Linked DNA regions of Homo sapiens: region 2 is linked to region 1. Evidence: fine-mapped expression QTL. Tissue or cell type: whole blood. Region 1 holds a variant in brackets; the other region holds the start of a gene. All regions are shown on one strand. Distances are from middle to middle. Region 1 overlaps ANK1 (ankyrin 1). Region 2 holds the start of GPAT4 (glycerol-3-phosphate acyltransferase 4).

Evidence for each region. PIP is the estimated chance that this variant, and not a neighbour inherited with it, causes the effect.
Region 2: it holds the start of GPAT4, and the variant in region 1 is fine-mapped to the expression of GPAT4 in whole blood (TOPMed, PIP above 0.99).

Annotation. Positions count from the first base shown.
Region 1 is chr8:41,654,474-41,659,835 of GRCh38, forward strand. It overlaps ANK1 (ankyrin 1), which reads right to left. Exons shown (of 43, transcript NM_000037.4): 43 at 1-1,280. Among named protein-coding and RNA genes, the nearest start is that of MIR486-2, 3.3 kb to the right of the region's middle. RefSeq lists an enhancer at 1,481-2,014. The variant G/C (reference allele first, on the strand shown) is at 2,305.
Region 2 is chr8:41,575,677-41,581,049 of GRCh38, forward strand. GPAT4 (glycerol-3-phosphate acyltransferase 4) reads left to right here and starts at 2,524. Exons shown (of 13, transcript NM_178819.4): 1 at 2,524-2,602. GPAT4-AS1 (GPAT4 and GINS4 antisense RNA 1) reads right to left here and starts at 2,692. Exons shown (of 3, transcript NR_125824.1): 1 at 2,630-2,692. RefSeq lists silencers at 2,251-2,870, 2,891-3,030.

The sequences.
Region 1 (5,362 bases):
TGCACCCAGGGTCCCCAGCCTGCAGGCTGCCTGGACTTAGAGCACCAAGTTCACTCTGGGAGACCCTGGGTGGTCCTGACTTCTAAGACCTGGCAGATACATTCACTAGCCCTACTCCTTTCCTTCCTCTTTCACTGAAAGACAGGCCACAGCTCCTTCTCCTGCAGCCGCAGAAGTCCTCAGGAGCTGCGCTGTCAGGCTCTGTACGTACTGCTAAATGTTTCTATTGGTTTGCATAGTATTTATTGTTTTTCATATACACAAGGCTGATTACTGTACAGTTTACACTTTGAACACGGACTATGATATAGTGCTTGAAGACATAGAAAACCTCTTCTCTATGGACATGCTGGTGCAATCCTGGGTCAGCCACCGGCCTGTCCCCCAACTGAGAGAGGAGACCCTTTCAGATGGGGTCCTGGCTCCCTTTGAGTCCTACAGGTAAGCCTGGGGGTCCTCGCCTCAGATTCTTAAGTCCCTAACACAAGGAACCCCGAATGCACTCTTCAAGGTAATGATTTTCCATTGGAAGATGATTCGTATTGAAATTGGCAGAGAGAGAGACAACATAAAAAATTCCAATTTATCCACAGCAGAGTCTATACAGCTTCAGAAGTCACAGTAAAATCTGTGTGTAGATTCAGTGGAGGCGAGTGGTGTGTGTGTGTGTGTGTGTGTGTCCTGAATGTCATGTAGAGCGATCTGGGAGGAGCGTCACCAGGGAGTCGAGGGGGTGTCACAAGTGGAATGGAGGTATGTGGGTTGGGGAGGGTGGGCAGATGAGGACATGGCTTAAGATTAAGGTGTTAAACTGATTTCATGCCTAGTTTTCTTTTTTTTTTTTTTCTTTCCAGGAAGCCCACATGGATTTCTGACAGATGAGGTTGGGAAAAAGTACCCTGTACGAAGTCAAAACAATTTAAAAAAAAAACCCCAAAACCAAAACCCATCCCCAGCCACAAAAAGCCCTCATTCACTTTTGCGTTCGCAGGCTCTCCTGCGCTTGTTTTCTATCCCTCTCTCTCCCCGCTTCTTGCTGCTTTTGTGTCCTGGTTCCGACAGATCAGCTGTCATTGCAAGAGGCAGGATTGAAGCCTGGAGGTCATGCGTCTACAGTCAGTCATTCATGCCAAGAGGGGACTAGCAGGAGTCCCTTACAGAGGTCATGCCGTCAGCCCAGAGGAATGTGTGCACCGCTGCGGTGGCCCTCAGGTCCAGCTCTCCTCCTGTGTGCATGGCAGAGTGTGTGGGGTTCAGGGGTTGGGTGTCGAGGTGTGATCCTGGGAGACACAAAGAGAGAAGGAGTCACTTAGAATGCAAAAGTGCAACGTCCAGCAAAAACCCCACACACAGAGTTTTGTGCTGGCAGCTCAGGCCGAATCTGACTCAGGAAAAGCAGTCTCCCCAGGCAGGGCGATGTGCTGAGGGTGCTGCACTTGCAGCCCGACTTCCTGAGATGCCGCCCTCCTTCTCTTGCTCCCTATGCAGAGGCTGTTCCTCAGAGCCGCCACCCAGGCCTCATGAATTCCTTCTGAGTGTGCAAGTGTTCCAGGATGCCTCTCTGTATGGGCCAAGGAGAGCACTGTGCTCTGTGCCCTTGGAGAGGGGCAGAGGCCCCCGTGCCTACGTGGTCACCTGGGGAGACATCCCCCAGCAGATCCTTGTACTTAGGAAGAGCCATTTTTCTTGAGCCAGGGCTTGTGCCAAGAAGGGGCTAGGTGAGGCTAGGTGAGGCCTTCACTTTCTCAGTTCAGCTCTGCCAACATGCACTGATGTCCGCCATGCGCCAGCCTTGGGAACCCAGGGATGGAGCGGATGTGCTCCCTGGCCTTGGGAGCTCATGCCTCAAGGGTGACAGCTCCCCTTCAGCTCTGGCCCACAGCACTTCCTGACCGCTGCCTCTGGCTGCTCTCCCCATGCCCCTCAGATGGACAGAGATCTCTGAAAAGCAGATGCATCCTCCTCTCCTCCTCCTGTATTGAGTCTTAGGCTGGAAAAGAGCAGCTTTGCTGGAGGAACTAAGCCCACATTCTTCAGCCTGGGATTCGCAGTGAGAAACCTCTCCTGCCCCCATGGGGCCTCCAGCCTCCAACCTGGGGTGAAAACTCCATGTTTTCAAGACCAGCCACTCATGTTCTATCTGCAGGGGCCCTGGGACCACTGGGGAAAGGAGGATGCTTCAATAAGGAGGAGGTGACAATCTCTTGGGCAGGGTGGGAAGTGACACAGGGAGGCAGGAGCTCATTCGGAGGTGGAGCCATCCCCAGACATAGAGCTGTTTTGGGTCCTCCAGGTGAAGGGGTT[G/C]GGGAGGAGTGTTGGAAGGGAGTAGGGAGAACTCAGCTCTTGGGTGGTTCCCCAGGGATGGGAGGGTGGTGCCAGGTTCCTTGCCAGGGGCTGCTGTAGAACTGTAAAGCCAGGAACTGCTGCTGCAGTGGGTGGACAGTGCTGCCACCGTAGAGGGAAGATGCTTTCATCACTGCTGGGCCATCACATCGGCCAAGTCTGACTGTCTCCTCTAAGCCTCTGAACACGCTCTACCCTCCTGTTCTCTGCCTTCGGTCACGCTTCTGTCAAGGCTGCCTTCCATTCTCTTTTCTGCAGAGGTTCTGCCTGCCGCCCTCAACACCTCCACCCCACAAAACCTTCCTGATCCTTCCTGGAGCAGGCCCCTCTCCACTCTGGAAGCTCTCCCTTTTGTATTTTGTAAAAATACAAAATACAAAAAAGAAAAAAGCTGCCTTTTCTGTTCAGGAGATGGCAGAGTCGAGTGGGTAAGAGCATGAACTCTGGAGCCAGACCACCCGGGTTCAAGTCCCATGCTGCCTGACCTCGGTCAAGTGCCTTACCTGCTCTGTGAGTCAGTTTTCTCTGCTGTAAAATGAGGGCAGTAATAGGGCCTACCCATTAGAGAGGTGTGATGTTTAAAAAAGCTAAGACACATAGGTGCTTAGCATTGTATGAATGCAAACAATTACTTGGCTCTCTAGAAATGTTACCGTCTCTGTCCATCTGTGCTTTTTGATGTCTGCATATTTCCCTGACTAGATTAGAAACACTGAGGGCAAGAACAGCCTCCTGGTGCTCCCCACGGTGCCTGCCCCAAGAAGTGCTCCTCAAATAAGAGACCATCATGGAATATGCAGCCTGGGAAAGACAGGCTAGGATCTCCCATCTACTTTACCGCCCAGGCACTGAGCAGAAGAGAAAGTTCAGACCTCAGAGATCATGCTGGCATGACTGCCCATTTCATCCCTTGGTAAACTGAGACTCTAGAGGCACAGTGGCAAGAGCAGGGGTGAGATGAGGACCTAGGCCACCTCACTCTGCCCAGGACTCCTGCATTGTTCTGGCCTCTTCTCCTGGGTCCCCTCACCTTTCAAAAGCTTAGAAAAGAGTCTCTTTCATTCTTTATTTTTATTTCATTTAGAGACAGAGTCTTGCCCTGTTGCCCAGGCTAGCGTGCAGTGGTATAATCATAGCTCACTGCAGCCTTGAACTCCTGGGCTCAAGCGATCCTCCCACCTCAGTTTCCCAAGAAACTGGAACTACAGGTGTATGCCACCATGTCCAGCTAATTTTTAAACTTTTTTTGTAGAGACAGGGTCCTACCACATTGCCCAGGCTCATCTCAAATTATCCTCCTGCCTCAGCCTCCCAAAGTGCTGGGATTACAGGCATGAGTCACTATGCCCGGCCCTAGACAGCCCTTTCACAAACATAAACTCAGCAACCATCATAACCATCCTACAAGGGAAATGCTGGCATTATTGCTAGTTTATGGCTAAGGAACCTGAGGCTTAGGGAAGTCATTTGACTTGCTCCGAGTCACACTACAAACAAGACCTGCAATTGTTTGAGTCCCAGAGCATATATGTTCTTATTTACTCTCTTCACATCAGTGCTCACAGTTACCATTATTATTTCTAAACCTTTTTCTTGAAGTGTAGCACATTCGAAAGGGACATTTTCATCCTCCCTTGAGGAGACTGAAGCTTAGGGCGGTTAAATGACTTAAGGCCATACAACCTGGAAGCAGGAGGAGGCCTTGATTCTAGACTCACAAGCTCCAGCTTTCACTCTCTGAAACAAATACAGCCATTTGCCATAGCTCTGTTCTATAAATTAGTCGCTGTTTGAGGCTGTGCACAGTGGCTCATGCCTGTAATCCCAGCACTTTGGGAGGCTGAGGAGGGCGGGTTGCTTGAGGTGAGGAGCTCGAGACGAGCCTGACCAACATGGTGAAACCCCGTCTCTACTAAAAATACAAAAATTAGCCAAGGGTGGTGGCACATGCCTGTAATCCCAGCTACTCAGGAGGCTGAGGCAGGAAGATCACTTGAACCCGGGAGATGGAGGTTGCAGTGAGCCGAGATAGTGCCACTGCACTCCAGCCTGGGCGACAGAGCGAGACTCCCTCTCAAAATATAAATAAATAAATAAATAAATAAATAAATAAATAAATAGTCGCTGTGAACACGGAATTAGCAAATACTGAACCACTGCTCCTAAGGGAAATACAAGGTTAGGCTCCCATGAGCCTCTGGCCACAATATTTTGGTCAACTGATGAATACATAACTTTGTGTTAAATGCGTTTCTGTTTCAAGACGCCTTATGTAATATATAGGGTTGACTCATTAACACTGACTTCACCACCACAAGCACTCTAACTCATCCCTGAGCAGAGCTTATCTGATGTCCATTCCCTCCTTAAGGAACATCCCAGCCTTCTTGCACTTCGCACCAGACAGCACTTCAGCACTGCCCTCAGGGGCCATTCTAAACAATGAAACCAAAAATGTGAAAAATGTGGCACTACACAAGCTGCAAGGAGGACACTTATTTATAGTATGAGGCACAGAGGCAGAGTGTGGCATTGTTCATCCTCAGCTGGGATTGCACGGGTTGGGCGACTCAAACTTTCTGCCCTTGTGTGTGTGTCCATGAATGAGCCAAAGCACGGTGAGTGCCAGCTTTGGGGCTACAGATAAATGTTAGCGAGTGGACGAATTCGCAAATGCAGAATCCGTGAATGATGAGGATCGACTGTACATGCTTGTCGGGGATGCGGATAGTAAATTAGGAAGCCTTTGGGCCCTCAACCGTCTTCTCTGTAGCCTTTGCCCTGGTTGGGAGGGTAGGGCATTTAATGCTGTCCCCTAACCCTCTGGGACTTTGGCAGGAGCTTTTCTCCGCCTCTCCCTCACCACTGCTCTCGCCCCACCGCCCCACCCCCCTGCCACCCTCACACTTGTCCCTGTGCCTGTCACTGACAGAGGGCCAAGTGCTGTCCCAGAGCCAGGCTGCTCCGTGTTTCTGACACCCATGCTAGTGTGGTCCGGTCCTTAATCACCTGAGGTTGG
Region 2 (5,373 bases), 79 kb before region 1:
TAGCTCGGTCATGCTATGGGCAGGAGGCCTTCTCTAAAGATAAGTCTGCTTTGTGTCAAGCATTTCAAGCATGACTTGCTTGTTTCATCTGCCCATTTACATTCCTTGTACCTAGAAATGAATGTGATAAAAGTTTTGGTGCCTACAGGAACTATATTTACCTAGTTCATGTTGGCTTCCCACTCAGAGGGAAGTTTGATTGCCTTCCTGCACTTGAGAAGTTTAGAGAATGTGCCAGTGAATGTGCACACTCACAAGGTGTGTGTGTGTATCAGTGTTAATACCCAACAATTGAGCCTACTATTTGCTTGGGCAAAGAACACCATTTTCTCTTGAGCCTCTAATATGTGTGAAATATTTTAAGATTTCAATATTATGTACAAAGAACTAGTAGATGGTAAGAATTGTGAGAAAATATAACCATGAGAACACAAAGAGAGTACAGCAGATGAGTGGGCTACTTCCAAGACTGGTTCTGGGGGCAGAAAAGGAGACCAGACGAAGGACTCCAAAGAGCAGTTGAGATCCTGGTGGCCACTTTAAATCCCTATCCCTAGCACTGTGGAGAACACAACACAAAAATGTATGATGTCTGGTTTCTTCTTCTTTTTTTTTTTTTTTTCTGAGATGGAGTCTCCCTCTGTCGCCCAGGCTGGAGTGTAGTGGTGCGATCTCAACTCACTGCAACCTCCGCCTCCTGGGTTCAAGCAAGTCTCCTGCCTCAGCCTCCCGAATAGCTGGGATTACAGGTGCGCACCACCACGCCCGGCTAATTTTTGTATTTTTAGTAGAGACGGAGAGACGGGGTTTCACCATGTTGGTCAGGCTGGTCTCGAATGCCTGACCTCGTGATTCCCCCGCCTCAGCCTCCCAAAGTGCTGGGATTACAGGGGTGAGCCACCGCGCCCGGTGGTTTCTTCTCTTATGGAATTTAATGTCGTTGACGATTAGACGTGGCCATGCATTACTCAATCTTGAATTGGGATCCCCAAAAAAGCTGGGCGAGTAACAAGGGCTCAATGAATGGATAAGTGATTGAGTTAATAAATACGTGATCAGTTCCAAATGGGTAACATTTAGTTATATTTGGTGGAGATAAGTAGTCCAGTGTTTTGGAGCTAAGTGGTTATTCTTTTTTTTTTTTTTTTTTTTGAGTTTGGGTCTCGCTCTGTCACACAGGCTGGAGTATAGTGCCACAATCTCAGTTCACTGCAACATCTGCCTCCTGGGTTCATGCAATTCTCCTGTCTCAGCCTCCCGAGTAGCTGGGATTACAGGTGCGTGCCATCACCCCCGGCTAAATTTTGTATTTTTAGTAGAGACGGGGTTTCACCATGTTGGCCAGGCTGGTCTCAAACTCCTGGCCTTAAGTGATCTGTCCGCCTCTGCCTCCCAAAGTGCTGGGATTACAGGCGTGAGCTACCCGCGCCCCGCTCCCCCCACCATTTTTTTTTAATTTTCAAAATTTTTGTAGAAGTGGGGGTCTCGTTACGTTGCCCCGGCTAGTCTCAAACTCCTGGCCTCAAGCGATCCTCCTGCTTTGGCCTCCCAAAACGCTGGGATTACTGGCGTGAACTACCATACTCTGCCCTTTATTCTTACAGAGATTTTGAGGTCTAAGAATGTGGACTTTAAAGATTTCATTATCAGATTATGCATTTAGCACGGAATGACAATCTGACAGCCGTGTACAGCGTAAACCGGCGGAGAGGGCTTGGCACTAAAGGCAAACTGTCTTTTAAGAACAGGAAAAAGAAAGGTAATATATATTTTAAGGAGGTCCCATTTTAGGGGAGATAATAAGCTTGGGTTAGGCGTCCGAAGTCAGAAGATATAGTAAGAAACACACACGCAAACTCCAGCAGCCACCAGCTAGACTTGAGTAGAGAGAGCAGGTCCAAGTGGAGGTGGAAGTTGGAAAGTTGCATCTGCCAGGCAGGGCGAAAGTGGCCTACACCCACTCCTGGAGCACCCTGCTTGACGAGCAAGGTAGACGAGGCTGAGGGATACTGCTGGTGATGACGGTGGTCGTGGTGATGGTGCTGGTAGCTAACAGATCTTGAGCGTACCAGGCCCTGAGCTGAGTCCTCTAACGGGCAGAATGTCGCTGCATACGGACAGCAGCCTCAAGAGGACAAGGTGATTTAGTGACTCTAGCCTCTTCCCGCGGTGCCAGCCTGATTTCACCCTCTCCGGAACACACAAGCGAACCTCCGGGGAGGGAGCCAGTATCGGGTCCTAACGCAGGGAAGCGCTCCGCTTTCTGAGAGGGACGCGCCAGCGGAGGGACAGCCAGGGCCCGGCCTCTCCTGCTCCTGCCCCGCCCCGCCCCCGGCAGTGCCCCCTAGTCCGCCAGAGGGCGACTCCGCGGGTCGCCCAACCCGCGACCGGTCCACGCGGCACCCGCCTCTCCCTAGGCCCCCGCCCTGCCGGCCCGCGCGCGCCCGACGGGAGCGTGCGGGGCGGTGGGCGCAGGGTCACGTTGGGCGGCGCAGACAAAGGCGGGCGCGCGCACGTCCTGACGCAGCTTGGGCCCGCGGCGGCGGCAAGGGCGGGAGGGAGCGGTCGCCGCGGGATTTGGAGCTGCCTAGCCTCGCGGTCGGTGAGTAGGAGGGAGCTGGCCCCTTACCTCAAAGTCTCCGACCTCCGGGGAGCCGAGAGCGGGACGTGGGAGCCGGGCTTGGGCGGCCGCGCGGGGCCTGCGGTCTGGGACGCCCCGGCGACGCTGCGCCGGCGTCAGGAGGCACCATCGCCGCGCCCCGGGGATCCCCGGCGGGTGGAGCGGGTGCCCCCCGTCCGGGATGGAACGGTCCGCGCCCGCCCCGAACCCCGGCCGCCCGCCTCTCCGCTCGCCTGCTCTCCGAGCCCGGCTCCTCGGAGCCCCTCGCCTCCCCCAAGTCCCAGGTGTGCGCAGCCCTCCCGCCCCGGGAGTCCGGGGATGTGGGTGGCGAGGGCTGCTGGGCGTTGGAGCACCAGGAAGCGCCTTCCCCTGTCATTCCCCTTCCTGTGTTCTCTGGCTGCCGTAAGATGCATGTCTTTACCCTCTCCTTCTCCAAATGCATGCTCCCATTTTTCTTTAGGATTTCTTAACTCCTGAAATCCCTTGCCTTTCCTTTTTTATTTCAGCACCCTCTGAGGCATCCTTCTCCCAGTGGGGCTTGTTTATTTCCTCGCTTTCCATGTCACAGAGGGCTGAAGTTTAGCTGTTCAGAAGTTGCAGAAAATAGCTTATAGGAGACATACGGTGTAGCACGATGGAAATAAGTTCCATCCTCTGCCAAGTATTACCATGGATCTTCTCATGGATAACCTTGAGGTCATTTGAGGAATTTTGTTTTTGGTTCATTTTCCTTAATTTTGGCTGAACTTTGAGGAGCTCTCCTTAGTTTCATGTCTTGTAGATTCTATCTCAATCCAAGGGAAATGGTGTGAAGAGCAGTTATACCATACCAAAGTCTCCAGACAAAATCCTGTAATAATGCCAATCAAATATACTTCTCTCTTTGAAAGAGATGTGCTTTTCTTTTCTTTTTTAACTTTGTATTTTGGAGAATTTCAGACACAGGGAAATAGATGGAATAGGGAACCAGCATGTACTTGTTCTGGCCTCCTCAGCCACTTAACTGTGGCTATTCCTGTGCCATACACACCCCACCCATTTCCCCTCCCGTATGTCTCAGGGAGAACTTGATGCAAGATGAGTCTGTCAAAAGTAGCTTCAGTTCCATAATGAAAACCACCATACCAAGTCATAAGGTGCTTTTTGTTTTGGAACACAGCCTACTCATGAGGTCTTCAGCTAAGAAACACAGTAGAGTTGAAGAAAGAGCACAGCAAAAGGTATCTTAACATGATAGAACAGGTTAAAAGAAAAAGTATGGCCGGGCGTGGTGACTCACGCCGGTAATCCCAGCACTTTGGGAGGCCGAGGCGGGCGGATCACCTAAAGTCAGGAGTTCAAGACCAGCCTGGCCAACATGGTGAAACCCTGCATATACTAAAAATACAAAAATTAGCCGGACGTGGTGGCAAGTACTTGTATTCCCAGCTACTCGGGAGGCTGAGGCCGGAGAATCGCTTGAACCCAGGAGGCAGAGGTTGCAGTGAGCCAAGATTGCGCCGCTGCACTCCAGCCTGGGCGACAGAGCGAGACTCGTGTCAAAAAAAAAAAGAAAAGAAAAAAAGTGTTTCAGATCTGGATGAGAACATTCGGAACGTCCTGTTCAATGTTTTCATTTTTTTCTGAGCCCTTGGAGGTCCAGAGAAGTTCAGTGACTTGTCCAGAGCTGCAGGTCTTAAGAGGCTGAAATCTCGCCTCTGCCTCGAGGCTGCGGTTCCACTGACCCATACTACTTGCCTTCAGGAAAGAGAAATGGTGTAGGAAGGCTGTGGATGAAGACGCTTACATTCATGAAGGATTTGGATAGGCGAACATGAGCTTTTCCACCAAATTTCAGAATTTTAAGAAATGCCTTAAATTATTTCTTAAAAATCAATTTGGGGCAGACGAGAAGTTCTGATAATAGTTTTTAGGGAACATGATAAAATTCTGACCTTAGAAGTGGTATACCAGTTTGAGAAGAAGAACAAGCTATAAACGGTGTAGATAACATTCACGGCTATTTAAGAAAGAGTTACTAAGGGAAACCAGAATGACTTAAGAGTGTTACTCTTCTTTTTCTGAGAGAACAATAGCATCATCTCAGAAAGCCTTTCATGCCATTAATAGGTAAGAATCTGGGCTTCTTGGACCATGGGTTAGACTTTCTTACAAAACCATAATATGCATTTCCTAGCAAAATTTATGCTATTACATTTCCTTATCTCAACAAAGACTGGTAAATTCAGTACTTATTCCTCAATTTTCCTACCCTTAAAATGGGGATATTCTGCCTCTCCAAGGAATGCTGGGAACAAGCAAGTCCTCATGTTAGGGGTCTTTGAGTTTTCATGGAAGTTTAGGTTATTTATATGATGACATAGTTGTCAACTTACTTTCAGGATGGACTTTTCTTTTGTGAGTTTGTGACCTAAATACAATAGTTGTTATGCATGTCCAGTTTATGGAAGTACCACTGCAATAACAGCATTTGAGTGTCATGGTAAATCATTACCCCTAAAGATAGAGGAGGGAGGAGGAGGCAACTGTTGTGTGTCTATTTTGTGTTTGGTGTGAGGAGTGTTGTGGCTAGGCTCTTCAGAGGCTAGCCTAACTTGCTAAGTGGTTTCTGCTAAAGAAAAACCCACTTTTCTTGTGTGTGCTTGTCACCACAAGTTAGCTTTTATTAAAAACAAAACAAAACTCTCTAAGCTATCTGGAGATGATTTGGCCCTGGTTAAACATGAACTGTACTGCAGAATTGTTTGTTTGGG